4 linked regions of the Homo sapiens genome follow. The protein of the gene in region 1 purifies or fractionates together with the protein of each later gene. This does not show direct contact. Each region holds a gene or a part of one and is shown in the gene's direction. Other genes may lie near its edges.

The links.
Region 2: the proteins of RANBP2 (region 1) and KIF5B purify together in Homo sapiens (affinity purification with western blotting; 2 studies listed by BioGRID and IntAct, with this or other methods). This does not show direct contact.
Region 3: the proteins of RANBP2 (region 1) and IPO5 purify together in Homo sapiens (affinity purification with mass spectrometry; 2 studies listed by BioGRID and IntAct, with this or other methods). This does not show direct contact.
Region 4: the proteins of RANBP2 (region 1) and RAPGEF3 purify together in Homo sapiens (affinity purification with western blotting; 2 studies listed by BioGRID, with this or other methods). This does not show direct contact.

What each region holds. Positions count from the first base shown.
Region 1 is NC_000002.12:108,717,929-108,722,444, forward strand, and holds the start of RANBP2 (E3 SUMO-protein ligase RanBP2), read left to right. Parts: upstream 1-1,553; 5' UTR 1,554-1,678; coding exon 1,679-1,750; intron 1,751-4,516. UniProt on the Homo sapiens protein: E3 SUMO-protein ligase which facilitates SUMO1 and SUMO2 conjugation by UBE2I. Involved in transport factor (Ran-GTP, karyopherin)-mediated protein import via the F-G repeat-containing domain which acts as a docking site for substrates.
Region 2 is NC_000010.11:32,021,902-32,025,655, reverse strand, and holds part of KIF5B (kinesin-1 heavy chain), read left to right. Parts: intron 1-2,619; coding exon 2,620-2,808; intron 2,809-3,398; coding exon 3,399-3,516; intron 3,517-3,754. UniProt on the Homo sapiens protein: Microtubule-dependent motor required for normal distribution of mitochondria and lysosomes. Can induce formation of neurite-like membrane protrusions in non-neuronal cells in a ZFYVE27-dependent manner.
Region 3 is NC_000013.11:98,015,945-98,019,698, forward strand, and holds part of IPO5 (importin-5), read left to right. Parts: intron 1-784; coding exon 785-907; intron 908-2,540; coding exon 2,541-2,760; intron 2,761-3,636; coding exon 3,637-3,754. UniProt on the Homo sapiens protein: Functions in nuclear protein import as nuclear transport receptor. Serves as receptor for nuclear localization signals (NLS) in cargo substrates.
Region 4 is NC_000012.12:47,748,857-47,752,610, reverse strand, and holds part of RAPGEF3 (rap guanine nucleotide exchange factor 3), read left to right. Parts: intron 1-641; coding exon 642-695; intron 696-781; coding exon 782-888; intron 889-1,090; coding exon 1,091-1,212; intron 1,213-1,349; coding exon of another isoform or gene 1,350-1,394; coding exon 1,395-1,563; intron 1,564-2,185; coding exon 2,186-2,270; intron 2,271-2,620; coding exon 2,621-2,681; intron 2,682-2,793; coding exon 2,794-2,870; intron 2,871-3,074; coding exon 3,075-3,221; intron 3,222-3,679; coding exon 3,680-3,754. UniProt on the Homo sapiens protein: Guanine nucleotide exchange factor (GEF) for RAP1A and RAP2A small GTPases that is activated by binding cAMP.

The sequences.
Region 1 (4,516 bases):
ACTGTTAAATTTTGGTATGTTCTGTTATTCTGCTAGTGAAATATATATAGATTTGGGGGGGCTATTCCTTTTCCTTTTTTTTTTTTTTTTTGAGACAAGGGTCTCACTCTGGTGCCCAGGATGGAATGCAGTGGCGCTATCACAGTTCATTGTAACCTGGAACTCCTGGACTCGAGGGATCCTCCCGCCTCGACCTCCCAAAGTGCTGGGGCTACCAGCTTAAGCCACTGTGCCAGGCGAATGGCTATTCCTATATACACAGTTGACCCTTGAATAACATGGGTTTGAACTGCCTGGGCCCGCTTATAAGCCGACAGAAAATACAGTATTGGAGGGGCCTGCATATAGAGAGGTCTGACTTTTCCTCTAAGTGTTCCACCCGCAGGACTGACTGCGGGATTTGAGAATGCGCGGACTTCTTCTTCTTCTTTTTTTTTTTAGGAAGTCTTACTCTCGCCCAGGCTTGAGTGCAGTGGCGCGATCTCAGCTCACTGTAACCCTCGCCTCTCAGTTTCAAGCGATTCTCGTGCCTCAGCCTCCCGAGTAGCTGGGATTATAGGGGCCCACCTCCACGCCCAGGTAATTTTTTGTATTTTTAGTAGAGATGGGCTTTCGCCATGTTGGCCAGGCTGGTTTCGAACTCCTGACCTCAGGTGATCCGCCCGCCTCGGCCTCCCAAAGTGCTGGGATTACAGGCGTGAACCACAGCGCCCGGCGGAATGCGTGGATTTTGGCATAAGACGGTGGTTCTGGAACCAATCCCCCGCCGAGATGACTGTTTAAAAAATTGTAATTGTCCAAAACTTAATATTTGTGGTCTTTTTCATTATGCAGTTCTAAATCTCCCTTTTTTTTTTTTTTTAAATTCAGACGGAGTCTCCCTCTGTCGCCCAGACGGCGCAATCTCGGCTCACTGCAACCTCCGCCTCCCGGGTTCAAGCGATTCTCCTGCCTTAGCCTCCGGAGTAGCTGGGACTACAGGCGTCCGACACCACGGCCGGCTAATTTTTTGTATTTTTGGTAGAGATGGGGTTTCCCTGTGCTAGCCAGGATGGTCTCGATTTCCTGACCTCATGATCCGCCCGCCGTGGCCTCTCAAAGTGCTGGGATTACAGGCGTGAGCCACCACGCCTGGCCCTCATTTAATAAGATATGAATTTAAAAATGTATGCTTTAGTATTCACACATGTCCGATGCAACGTATTTAACCAGTCATCTCCAGAAACTTTGTTCCAATTTACACGTTCACCAAATTGGCCTGAGTGCTTTTTTTCTTCCAATGCATTGCGCACTTATAATTTAGAACAAGTGACCAAAACGCTTAAGAGCCCATCACGCAAATTGTTATCTGCTGGAAATCTACGCCCTAGGCTGTGGACACTGGCGGCCGAAATCTGATCCCGGCTTGCCAAGACACCCTCAGAGCACGCGGCGCTGCCAAGAGCCTGGCCGAGTGCAGCTCGAGCGCCGACGTCGCCAACGTGGCGCACACTGCTGACGCAGTACGCAAGTTCGTCACAGTGGTCCTCCGCCGGCTGCGCCGCAAGTTCGTCACAGTGGTCCTCCGCCGGCTACGGCGCTGCGTCACTGGTTTGCAGGCGCTTTCCTCTTGGAAGTGGCGACTGCTGCGGGCCTGAGCGCTGGTCTCACGCGCCTCGGGAGCCAGGTTGGCGGCGCGATGAGGCGCAGCAAGGCTGACGTGGAGCGGTACATCGCCTCGGTGCAGGGCTCCACCCCGTCGCCTCGACAGGTGAGTGGGTCTCGAAGAGACCGACGGCCTCGACCTGGCCGGGCGGCGGCCTCGCGCTGCTCAGGCGTCATGGCTCCCGACGGGCGCTGCTCCCTGGCGCGCTCTGTTGAGGCGCCGGCCGGCTGGCGCAGTCCTGTGGGCGGCGTGGCGCTTGCAAGCGCATGAAGAGTCCTGGGGGGACAGCGGTGGGCGGGAGACCTTTGGCGCCGGCGCTTCCTCTTTCTCCCGGCTTGTTCCCGACGCTTGTTCCCGACGGTGCTCGCTCCTGGGGCCGCCCTGGCCCGGGCTTTCTGGCCGATCGCGCACCCCGTAGTACCCGCGCGGCCTAGTTCTCGGGGGCTTGGGCACCCGGGTGCTGTATCGGCGGGTTTCTTCCCATCTCCTGGACATATACTTTATATGCTGCGGCGGAGGTCGTACCTCCTTGGCCTGGAGGAACCCAGTGGGGACTGACGCAGCTCCGGGTGAGCTTTGGCGGCTGCGTCGAGTGACAAGGTAGGCATCTCAGCGCGGACATTTGCAATGGCCCGACGGCGCAAATGACACTGAAAGTCCCCTTGTTTTGAGTATGAGGTGTTTGTCGCTGTCCCTTTGTAAGGGTCCAGCTCCACTCCGCTCCTCATACTCACCTCCCTCGCCCCCCTCCCCGCCCGGAACACTTTGGTAGCTGCCTTTGCTTAAAAAAAAAAAATTCTAAAGTTCTTACAAATCGTTAGTATGGCTTGCAATTTTTAACCTTTTCCACAAATGTTTTAAGGGTATTTTTCCTCTTTACATGTAAATAATGTGATCTATTTTGGATTCAATAAGACTTTAGTAATTGGATCTAAAGAGTGACGGAAGAAGCTATTAAAGGTGGATGTGCGCAGAATCTTGAGTCAGTTTGCTTTGGCTTGAATAATCACAGCACTGTCGTTTATAAGCTGGGTATTTGGGGCCAGTTACACTTTTCATCCATAGATGGAGTTGTAACATTAATAGAATTTGATAGGATGATCCATTTTAAACATTTAGGGTATTGCTTGACACATAGCACTAAATGTTAGCTACAAGTCACTTTTTATTGTTGATGTTAAAAGGATATTGGCGGGGCGCAGTGGCTCACGCCTGTAATCCCACCACTTTGGGAGGCCGAGGAGGGCGGATTGCCTGAGGTCAGGAGTTCGTGACCAGCCTGGCTAACATGTTGATACCTCGTCTCTACTAAAAATACAAAAAAAGTTAGCCGGGCGTGGTGGCGCATGCCTGTAGTCCCAGCTACCCGGGAGGCTGAGGCAGGAGAGTCGCTTGAACCCGGGAGGCGGAGGTTCCAGTGAGCCGAGATCGCGCTACTGCACTCCAGCCTGGGCGACAGAGGGAGACTCCAAAAAAACAAAAACAAAAACAAAAAAAACCCGGAAACTCACGGATGACCATGATTATAATAGTAGCATAATTGTGTCTCTTATCGTAACTAAGCATAGGTTATCTTATTTTGCGCTTCCAGCAGCCCTGTGGATATTGAGACCTGTAGAGATTTAAGATACTTGTTCAGGGTCAAATAGATAGTGCAGCAGAATTTTGGCAGTGGGTCTGATTTAGTTTCTCTTGGGAACAGTGGAGTAAGTTACAGTCTATTCCTCCAGAGGAGGAGGATAGATATCTACTTGTACATTGTAATTTCAAACTGCTAGCATAGTATAAATATGAATGTGATGATAGAGTCTAAAACAGACCTTAATTGAGGGTTCCTGTAACTCCTGAAATTAAAGACTTTAATTTTTGTGTTATTTTATTTTTTTTGAGGTGGGGTCTCACTCTGTCACCCAGCTGGATGCAGTGGCGCTATCTCGACTCACTGCACCTTCCGCCTCCCCAGCTCAAGCGATGCTCCCACCTCAGTCTCCCGAGTAGTTGGGACCACAGGTGTACCCACCACACCCGCTGTTTTGTTTTGTTTTGTATTTTTGGTAGAGACTGGGTTTCACCATGTTGCCCAGGCTGTTCTTGAACTCCTGGGCTCAAGTGATTTCCCCGCCTCCACTTCCCAAAGTGTTGGGATTATAGGCGTGAGCCACTGCACCGGCCATTATTTTATTTTTGAGACAAGGTCTCTTTCTGTCTCCCAGGCTGGAGTGCTGTGGCGGGATCGTGGCTCACTGCAGCGTTGACGTCCTGGGCTCAATCCATCCTCCCACCTTAGCCTCCTGGGTAGCTGAGACTACAGGCATGTGCCACCATGCCCGGCTTTTTTCTTTAATGTAGAGACGGGGTCTTATCATGTTACCCAGGCTGGTCTCCAACTCCTGGGCTCAAGTGATCCTCCCGCCTTGGCCCCAAGTGCTGAGATTACAGGTGTGAGCCACTCTGCTCAGCCTGATTTTTTTTTTTTTAAACAAGCTTAAAAAAAAAAAAAAGCAAGCTTAGAGCCTTTCTGAGATTCTTAGTGGGGACCTTGGCTTCCAAAAGATTAAAAACCACTGGTCTAGACAGAAGTTAGAATGTTCTTTCAACTACATAACTTCTCCATTAAATAAAGTGGAGTGGTGGCAGAATTTTGAGGATTGGTTATTATGACACCTCTCTTACACTTAGAGTCTTTTTTTTCCCCCAAATTTAAAGTCATTTACATTAGAACCTGGGGATTTCAGCGGAATATGGATTAACTAGTGAGTAACTTTGGAACATGTGAAGCTATTCTGTAAAGTTAGGTTTGAGTGAAATGACAAAACAGGGTGCTTTGGATAGAAGGTAAAGAATGGAGGGAGAAGAGGCAGTGGCTGTGAA
Region 2 (3,754 bases), on another chromosome or scaffold:
GCCTGTAATCCCAGCACTTCGGGAGGCCGAGGCGGGCAGATCACTTGAGGCTAGGAGTTTGAGACCAGCCTGGCCAAAGTGGTGAAGTCCCATCTCTACAAAAAATAAAAAAACTAGCCAGGCATAGTGGTGCACGCCTATAGTCCCAGCTATTTGGGAGGCTAAGGCACGAGAATTGCTTGAGCCCAGGAAGTGGAGGTTGCAGTGAGCCAAGATGGTACCACTGCACTCCTTCCTAGGTGACAGAGTGAGACTCTGTCTCCAAAAAAAATAATAATAATTCATGTGTAAGTTATTCTTTGGACATAAATTTTCAGTTCAGTTGAGTAAAAATACCTAGAAGTGCTAGGTTGTACGTTATGACTATGTTAGCTTTGTAAGGAACTCCCAAATGGTCTTCCAAAGTGGTGGAAACATTTTGCATTCCTATCAGCCATGAATGAGAGTCTGCTGTTCCACATCATTGCCAGTGTTTGCTCTTGTCAGTTTCTTGGGATTTTACTAATGTATGGTGTTATTTTATTGTCATTTTAATTTGCAGTTGTGTTTTTTCTTATTGTTGAGGTTTTCTTTTTCTTTGAGACGGAGTCTCGCTCTGTCACCCAGGCTGGAGTGCAGTGGCGTGATTTTGGCCCACCATAACCTCCGCCTCCTGGGTTCAAGTGATTCTTCTGCCTCAGCCTGCCAAATAGCTGGGAACACAGGCGCGTACCACCACGCCTGGTTAATTTTTATATTTTTAGTAGAGATGGGATTTCACCATATTGTCCAGGCTGGTTTCGAACTCCTGACTACAGGTGGTCCGCCTGCCTCAGCCTCCCAAAGTGCTGGTACTACAGGCATGAGCCACTGCGCCTGGCCCTGTTGTTGAGTTTTGTTTTGTTTTATTTTGAGATGGAGTCTCGCTCTGTCGCCTAGGTTGGAGTGCAGTGGCATGATCTCGGCTCACTGCAAGCTCCTCTTCCTGGGTTCAAGCAATTCTTCTGCCTCAGCCTCCCGAGTAGCTGGGACTACAGGCTCCCACTACCACACCTGGCTAATTTTTTGTATTTTTAGTAGCAACTGGGTTTCGCCATATTGGCCAGGCTGGTCTTGAACTCCTGACCTCAGGTGATCTGCCCGCGTCAGCCTCCCAAATTGCTGGGATTACAGGCGTGAGCCACCGTACCTGGCCTCCTATTGTTGAGTTTTAAGAGTTCTTCGGCCGGGCGCGGTGGCTCACGCCTGTAATCCCAGCACTTTGGGAGGCCGAGGCGGGCGGATCACGAGGTCAGGAGATCAAGACCATCCTGGCTAAAACGGTGAAACCCCGTCTCTACTAAAAATACAAAAAATTAGCCGGGCGTAGTGGCGGGCGCCTGTAGTCCCAGCTACTTGGGAGGCTGAGGCAGGAGAATGGCGTGAACCCGGGAGGCGGAGCTTGCAGTGAGCCGAGATCCCGCCACTGCACTCCAGCCTGGGCGACAGAGCGAGACTCCGTCTCAAAAAAAAAAAAAAAAAAAAAAAAAAGAGTTCTTCATATGTTTTGGATATAAGTCTTTTATCAGATAGTGTTTTGCATTATTTCTCTGTGTCTTGTTTTTTTTTTTTTGTTTTTTTTTTTTACTCTCAACGTCATTTTTTGAGACTAAAAATTTTTAATTTTAATGAGGTCCAACTTACCAAGTTTTACATTAATAGATTGTGTTTTTGGTATTGTATTTAAAAACTTGTCACCAAACCCAATATCACCTAGATTTTCTCCTGTGTTAAAAGTTTTTTTTTCAGTTTTGCATTTACATTTAGATCTATGATCCATTTGGAGTTAATTTTTCTGAAAGGGGTAAGGTGTGTACCAGGATTCATTGTTTCACATCTGGATGTCCAGTTGAAGAGACTGTCCTCCCTCCATTAAATTGCCTTTGCACCTTTGTCAGAGATCAGTTGACTGTATTTTGTGGTTTTATTCCTGGGCTCTTTATTCTGTTCTGTTAACCTGTTTATCTGTTCTTTGCCAGCACTGTACTGTTTTGATTATTATAGCTTTACAGTAAGTTGCATAGTGTCAAGTCCTGTGACTTTGTTTGTCCTTAGTGTTGTGCTAGCTATTCAGGGTCTTTTGACTTTACATGTAAACTTAATCATGTCATCTGCACAGTTTTATTTCTTCCTGAAGGTGAAGGAATATACAGTGACCACAATTCCTTCTGGTTGAGCTTAAAGTTCATCCTTTCCCTGCCACCTAAACATCCTCTTGTTAAATTTTAAGCTGAACGTGCACATGATTAACAATGAATTTACTGAAGAGGTCCTGTAAAGAGGAAGTGAAAAAATTGAAAGAGGCAGAATTTATTAGTTTGGTTGTATTTTTGTGTTTTCTTTAGGTTTACATTTATTTATTTTTCTTGTTGGCATGTATTAACATTATTCTCAGTTTTTAAAAAAAGGAAGGCAAAAAGTAAGCTGTATTTATTTACCTTTCGTTGAAAACAGTAATAAAAGAAAAAAATAAGATCCAGACTTTGTATGAATATTGAGTAATACTAAAATATATTTTATAAAAAGATTTTATAGCCTAATTGGGAAAACACACATTGAACATTTTTGGCTTTAATTTTTTATTTTACTTTTTCCTTACAGCAGCCTGAGGGAACTGGCATGATAGATGAAGAGTTCACTGTTGCAAGACTCTACATTAGCAAAATGAAGTCAGAAGTAAAAACCATGGTGAAACGTTGCAAGCAGTTAGAAAGCACACAAACTGAGAGCAACAAAAAAATGGAAGAAAATGAAAAGGAGTTAGCAGCATGTCAGCTTCGTATCTCTCAAGTATGTTATAGAACAAAGTTTATTCATTTTTTTGAAACAGCCACATAGAAATTTTATTTATTATACAAGTTTTCAGAAAAATGTGTGTCTATAGGTGAAATTTAGTTGTTTTTTTCCTAGTCTAGCTGCAGTAAATTTGAATGATTTAACTGAGTTATATTTGCCTAACATAAATATGGGTTATGTATAGAAATTTACCAGAATGATGTGACTGGTGGTAACTTGTTAAAGACTTCAGAATTCCAGGGTGGGCAAAACTGCAGGGAACCAGTTTCCTGGCTTGGCAACTGAATGAATGGGGCCATTCACCACTATCAGAATTTCACAAGGAGGGAAGATGGTAACGTTAGATGGTGGTATCTGTAAAATTAGTATTTCATATTTGAGTCTTCAGTGCCTTAGTTTGCAAGTTATGATCACCAATGAATTAATTGATTACATTCTTTAACATTTCAAAATTGGCTCCTGAATATTTTAGTTTTAAATATTCCCAAATTTATCATATATAGATAATGAAATGTTTACTGTCAAATATTCTTAAAGTGTATGCATATGTTTTCCACTTCATATCAGTATATTTTTTCCAAAAGCATGAAGCCAAAATCAAGTCATTGACTGAATACCTTCAAAATGTGGAACAAAAGAAAAGACAGTTGGAGGAATCTGTCGATGCCCTCAGTGAAGAACTAGTCCAGCTTCGAGCACAAGGTATAGCTTCCAACTGTTTATGAGTTACATCTGTGTTCTTATTTTAGTATAATTGTAGTAAACTTAATATTCACACTGAAAGAAATAGTAGGAATATGGCTGATTTCGAATGGTAAACAAATCATACATATTAATGTTGCTTTGAAACATTTTTTTGTTGTTGTTTTGAGACGGCGTCTTCACTCTGTTGCCCAGGCTGGAGTGCAGTGGCACTATCTTGACTCACTGCAACCTCCAC
Region 3 (3,754 bases), on another chromosome or scaffold:
GAAATTAAACTGATATGTCTTTCGGTGCTATGTGCATTTTGTTGTAATACCTCACTCAACAAAACACCTTGAGGTTTACCTAGTTCATTTACATACTGCTCACAACAACCATTTGTATTTTGTGGTGCTTTCACTATATTAAAGATGAGTAACCTAAAATTCCAGTGTTAAATGATTGCCTAGAGTCACACTGTTGACGGTCTGGGGCCTTTTTCACCATGTTACTTAGTTCTCTCATCAAACCACCTAGGACTGTCAAGCATACTTCATTGTGTGTTTAGAGTCCAGCATCTCATATGTGGCCACTTGGTGGGCCAGTGCTACCGTGTAGGTAGTACCAGCTTCCTGAAGGTGCCCACATGCTTGTAGGCCCAAATTGCCACTAACAGCGAGACCCCATTCTCCCCACCATCCACCCCGAAATGAGGATTATTCTGCTGAAAACAAAGTAAAAATAGTGAAAACACCTTTGTTTCAGAATGTAGAAATTAGAGATAATTTTTCAACCCATCTATTTTAAGTATGTTCCAAGGAAAATCTTTGCAATAAATACAGTTCTTGCCACACACCTTTGTCTTTCGAGGTAAGACTGGCCTTTGATTAGTAAGAGACATGATAACCCACACTTGAGGGTTACTCCGGTCTCTAGACTCTTGATTTACCCTTAAAACAGGAATGAGAAATTGATTTTCTGCATTTTTTAAGGTTTTTATAAATGTTACTATTGATAATAGAAAATATACTTTTTAATCCATATGAGTGTTTATGTGTATGTTTTTTTTAGGATGATAATGATGTTTATATTCTGACCAAAGTGTCAGATATTTTACACTCAATATTCAGTAGCTACAAAGAAAAGGTGTTACCATGGTTTGAACAGCTGCTTCCATTAATTGTCAACCTCATTGTAAGTGTTACCTCTCTTAATAGTTGTTTTGCGTAGTTTACCTGGAATTCTTTTCACTGCAACGTAAAATCTAATGCTTGAAGTTAAAATGGGTCTCAGAAATGATTGTTTCCATTGTACATCTTTGATTTTATCAAGTTGACTGCATTACCCTGGATATTTTCTCATTCATTATATGCTTGAAGATTCCTAACTTGGTTTTCCATAGGCCAATTCAGTTCTAACACATCTGAAAGATATATAAGTGATTTTTTTTATTATTTCAGATTATCTGTGCCCTCCTAAATTAATAAAAGGAAACAGAATGGTTACTTCTTTTTTAGTGGACCATAGATAATTCAATTATCTTTGTTATGTACTACCAGCAATCATGGATTATGGATAATGGGCATATATATATATATATGTATTTTTTTTTTACCTTCTCTCACCCTTATATTTGATTTTTTTAAAATGTTTTATAGACTTCTTTTTGTTTGTTTGTTTGTTTGTTTTTCTCAAGATGGAGTCTTGCTCTGTCGCCCAGGCTGGAGTGCAGTGGTGCAATCTCGGCTCACTGCAACCTCCGCCTTCTGGGTTCAAGCAATTCAGACGCACGCCACCACACCCGACGAATTTTTTGTATTTTAGTAGAGATGGGGTTTCACCATGTTGACCAGGCTGGTCTCCAACTCCTGACCTAGTGATCCACCCGCCTCGGCCTCCCAAAGTGCTGGGATTACAGGCATGAGCCACTGCGCCCAGGCCTACGCTTCCTATTTTAAAGCAGTTTTAGATTCACAACCAAATTGAACAGGAGGTACAGAGATTTCCCATGTGCCTCTGCCCCTGTGCGTGCATGGCCTCAGCACCATTAACACCCCCCATCACAGTAGTAGATACATGTGTTTCTGTTATGGACCTACATCAACACATCATATAATGGCCTATGTGTATTCAGTTTTTTTGTTTGTTTTGTTTTTTTGTATTTTTAGTTGTGTTTTTTTGTTGGGTTTTTAGTAGAGATGGGGTTTCACCATATCGGCCAGACTGGTCTCAACCTCCTGACCTTGTGATCCGCCCACTTTGGCCTCCTAAAGTGCTGGGATTACAGGCGTGAGCCACCTCGCCTGGCTGTGTATTCGGTTTTTAAAAAATATATTATAAATTAGCAGCTATCATCAGATGTTTGGAATTTTTCTTTTTGGCTTTCAATTTTGCATTTTATTGTATTAAGTAGTGCAGTACATTTTTTAAAAGATTCGGGCACACATGACTTAGCCTGTTGAATAAATGCTATAAGTTAAGATCTTTGCAGCTTTTATTATTATTGTATTTTTTTAATGTAGCATTACCATTGTCTTTTTTACAAAGTAAATTTATATACAATGCTTCCACTGTCAGTTCTTCTGTGTGATAGTGTCAGATTGTAGAGTTCTGTAACAAATCATACAAGTCTTTGAAACCTAAATTTTATTAAATCTGTGTATTTGATTGAATATCGTTGGTCACAAGAAGTGGTTGTTACTATGTTTTCTTTTTTCTTTTGCCTGTATGAGGAATATCAATGTAAGCAGATAGTCTATAGTGAATATTTCTTTACATTCTTTGTGTACACCAGTATTTGAAGCTTAAAAGAGAATTTCTTTTGTAGTGTCCACATAGACCATGGCCAGACAGACAATGGGGATTATGCATCTTTGATGATGTCATAGAACACTGTAGTCCAGCCTCATTTAAATACGCAGAATATTTCTTAAGACCAATGCTCCAATATGTATGTGACAACAGCCCAGAAGTCAGGCAAGCAGCTGCATATGGCCTGGGAGTCATGGCACAGTACGGTGGAGATAATTATCGCCCTTTTTGTACAGGTACGTTTGCTTATTCCGTTACGTGCATTTCATTCCAGACATCCTGTGAATCCCTACTTTACTCTCTTTACCACACTCCCAAACATTATTTGCCTATTTCTGCTGTAGTCTGTTTTCAGACATCTCATCTGTAGCATTTAGGATTTTAGATGATAAAAAGATGATTTATTCTCATAGAAATAGAATCAAAGACATCCCCTGCCCCCAGCCTTCCAGGGTGCATTTCTCTTTGCGTTTTGGCAATATACAACAGCCTTAGAATAGGACTTTTTTTTTTTTCTTTAATTGAGGCCCAGGCTGGAGTGCAGTGGCATGATCTCGGCTCACTGCAACCTCCGCCTCCCGGGTTCGAGCAATTCTGCTTCAGCCTCCTGAGTAGCTGGGACTACAGGCGCATGCCACCACGCCTGGCTAATTTTTTCTATTTTTAGTAGAGATGGGGTTTCACCATGTTAGCCAGGATGGTCTCGATCTCCTGACCTCGTGATCGGCCCACCTCAGCCTCCCAAAGTGCTGAGATTACAGGCGTGAGCCACCACACCTGGCAGAATAGGACTTTTAAAACTTACTGGGGAATATAGTTAGGCAGCTTTTAAAGTTTAAGGACCCTCGGGTGATGTGATGAGTACTGTAAATCTGGAGGCCACTAATCTCTCTGGGTCTCTAAGTTAGTAGAGGGCTAGTGCTCCTGTCCATGCTGGGGCAGTCCCCCCTCTGTTGCCATTCTGTAATGACATAGCCAAGAAGACAACACTTCCCATACACTTTAACATTTCTTTACCATAATCAATATCTGAACCAAATACAAAAATACATATATTCATTTGCATGAAAATGTGAGGTTTTAGCTGAACTTCTTTCAAATGCTTATTTTAGAAGCACTTCCCCTGCTGGTAAGAGTTATTCAGTCTGCGGATTCTAAGACCAAAGAAAATGTCAATGCTACAGAGAACTGCATCTCAGCAGTAGGGAAAATCATGAAGTTCAAGCCTGA
Region 4 (3,754 bases), on another chromosome or scaffold:
TCAGGAGACTCAGGTAGGGAGGGAGAGGTTAAATCATTTGTTTCAGGTCACATCTGCCATCAGTGGGGAAGCAGAGATTTTAATCCAGGAGCCTGGCTCCAGGGTTTGTGTTTTGACAACCAGGCTGATCCGAGGCCCAGAGATGGCAAGACACCTGCTCATGGGCCTGTGGAAGGACACAGAACCTGGCTGGGGATCAGGTCTGTGACCCCAGCCCAGGAGCGGATGTTCCCAGGCCTCCTGAGCTGCTCACATCCTGGCTCCCATCTCCCAGGTCTTCTTATCTCATGTCCTCATGCTCCTTCCAGCTCCCTCACTTCTTTCCCCCAACAGGGGCAGTTCACCTGGGGGCATGGGCACACCTGGGCCCTGAGTAAGCAGAATGGGTGTCTTAGGGCTCTCAACTGTAGGGAGGCAGTCCTTGAGTTGGGTTTGGTGATCAGGATGGCAGGGTGGGAAGAGGCGATGCCCGGGGCACAGGGTGCTGAGTGAATATTTGTTTATTTGCTGAAGGAGTGGCCACATGGATGCATTTGGGGTTGGGGCCTAGGCAAGAGTGGGAGTGATGGGGGAGGGGAGGTATCCAAGAGCTGGGCTTGAAGACCTCACACTGATGTGCACGCTTTCCCTGCTGCCCCCAGACACCACTCACCAACAGCGAGGAGTCCCTGGATTTCAGCGAGAGCCTGGAGCAGGTAGAAGCCTGGGCAGGGTGGAGCTGGGACAGGCAGCACCATGAGGGGTTCAGAGCCTGAACTGCTGTGCCCTTCCTCCCTCTAAGGCCTCCACAGAGCGGGTGCTCAGGGCTGGGAGGCAGCTGCATCGGCATCTGCTGGCCACCTGCCCAAACCTCATCCGAGACCGGAAGTACCACCTTAGGCTCTATCGGTGAGTGGAGGCCCTGCTGCCTCCTTGCCCAGCCTCACTGCTTTCTCTCCGTTCCACTTTATGTCAGGCACCTGGGCCTCACCCTGCTTCTAGCACAGGGACGAACCAGGCTTGGGCCTCAGAGGGTGCCTTTCTAATGCATAGTTCCTCCCTCTCCCTGCCACCCTCCTTCCACTGGCCTGTCCCCTTCTACCTTCCATAGGCAGTGCTGCTCTGGCCGGGAGCTGGTGGATGGGATCTTGGCCCTGGGACTTGGGGTCCATTCCCGGAGCCAAGTTGTGGGAATCTGCCAGGTGCTGCTGGATGAAGGTGCCCTCTGCCATGGTGAGCCCGAGCCCAGGGTGGGGTGCCCCGGGCTGGGCTGGGCAGTGAGGGGGACAGGACAGGGCAGTCCTGGGAAGCAGGCACTACTTGGGGAGTGCTGAGGGGTGGCATCGCAGTGGGGTTTCATACCCACATAGCCTCAATTTCCTCTCCTCCCCCACGCCTGGGCCTCTGCCCCCCAGTGAAACACGACTGGGCCTTCCAGGACCGAGATGCCCAATTCTACCGGTTCCCCGGGCCCGAGCCCGAGCCCGTGAGAACTCATGAGATGGAGGAGGAGTTGGCCGAAGCTGTGGCCCTGCTCTCCCAGCGGGGGCCTGACGCCCTGCTCACTGTGGCACTTCGAAAGCCGTGAGTCAGAATCCCTGCACCCCGTGACCCCAGGCCTCACACAGCACTCAGATTTCACGGTTTCTCAGATTGATCTCTGGGGGCATCCCTTACCTGTTGTGGAGGGAAGGGAACCTGGCTGGCCCAGAAGCCCCTGGCGCTGACTGCCACGGACTCACTGTGTGACCTGGATCCCTCCACACTCCCAAACCCCCCCAAGTCAGTTTCTTCCTCTGTAGATGAGGATGTTGGACCAGGGGGATCTCTGAGGACCCTTCCCACTCAGAGACACAGTTGTGGCTGAAAGCAAGTGGGTTTTGGAAACTGCAGTCCGGTGGGTCCAGGTTCAAATTCCAGCTGGACTGGCTACTGGCTGGGTGACCTTGAGCCTCCTCATGCTAGTTCCTGTTCTGTCAAGTGAGGATGATAGAACCACTCCTTAGGGTTGTTGTGAAACAATGCATGCAAAATGCTCATCACAAGCGCTGCCACATGTGCGCACTCAGTAAAGGTTAGCTGCTGCTGATAACTGTCACTGCTGAGGCACCGTCTGGCACAGGCATCGGCTGGGTGGGTGGAGTGGCTCCCTGCACCTGACGGGCCCACAGTTCACAGTGTGCTCCCATTCCTCCTGTCCCTGCAGCCCAGGTCAGCGCACGGATGAAGAGCTGGACCTCATCTTTGAGGAGCTGCTGCACATCAAGGCTGTGGCCCACCTCTCCAACTCGGTCAGTCCTGCCCCTCCCAGCCCTGCCCCGTACCAGGCATCTTCTCTTCCTGTGACTTCCCTGAAACTCCAACTGCTGGGCCAGAGGGCATTTCTCCACTTCCATCTATGGCTGGAAATTTTCAGTCTGATTTCTTGCCCCCGGCGCTGCCCTGTCTGAAAATCCTTCCGCCTCTCTCAGCCCATTTTCTCCACTTGCTTTGTCTCCTGCTGAATCCTGGGAACACCTGACCTGGCCACATCTTTGTCCCCCAGCACTTGTGTCTTTGGACCTAACCACACCCCTAGCAAAAGCCTGGCTGCTCTGCACATGAACTTGTCGCCACCGACTCTCCTATCTCCACCACACAGGTGAAGCGAGAATTAGCGGCTGTTCTGCTCTTTGAACCACACAGCAAGGCAGGGACCGTGTGTAAGTCCAGCAGGGCATAAGAAGCCAGGCACAGGGCCTGGACATGGGCAGAAGGATGTGTGAAGGAATGGTAGGTGCCAGGAGGGCCCGGTCTGAGGTATGCTTCTGTCAGTGTTCAGCCAGGGGGACAAGGGCACTTCGTGGTACATTATCTGGAAGGGATCTGTCAACGTGGTGACCCATGGCAAGGTGAGCCCTCCCTCCTCCCCACCCCAGTGCCCTGGGTCCTAACTGCTCCCTGGTCCATGTCCTCATGGGCAGTGCCTTTGTTGATCTACTGCTGCTGACCCCGTGTCTCCTGTGTGGGTTGTTCTCCTGCCGTGGGTCTGTCCTGGCAAGAGCTGGGGGCGGCAGGGGCGGCAGGGGCGGGCTGAGACTGAGGCCTGGCTGCAGGGGCTGGTGACCACCCTGCATGAGGGAGATGATTTTGGACAGCTGGCTCTGGTGAATGATGCACCCCGGGCAGCCACCATCATCCTGCGAGAAGACAACTGTCATTTCCTGCGTGTGGACAAGCAGGACTTCAACCGTATCATCAAGGTGCTGCTGCTGGGGTTGGGGAGGGCAGGGGCCATTCGTCCAGAGAAGTGATGTGGAGAGAGGAGTAGGGACCAGAGCAGAGGGCCTGTAAGAAGCAGGGCAGGTAAGAGATGCTGGGCTATGACAGCTGGCAGTGGGACCATAGCCCTGGGTGTGTGTGAGAAGGTGAAGCCCATAAGGCACAGAAGGAGTTCAGTGAGACCAGTGACTTCAGGCTCAGTGTGGGAGACCAGGGGAAGGATGGGCATGCAGGGGGCGGGGGACTAGGCTGTGGGGGAGGCAGGATGCATGGAAGGTAGGGAAGGCTGAGGAGGTGGAGCCAAAGTCGGAGGTGGGAGAAGGGCTGTGGGTCCCTGTGGGACCCTCATGGGGCTCAGGGGCTGGAATGAAGGAGGTAGATGAGAGGGTCTAAAGCTGGAACATCATGAGTTGAGCATGGGATGTGGCCTGTTCTCCAGGATGTGGAGGCAAAGACCATGCGGCTGGAAGAACATGGCAAAGTGGTGCTGGTGCTGGAGAGAGCCTCTCAGGGC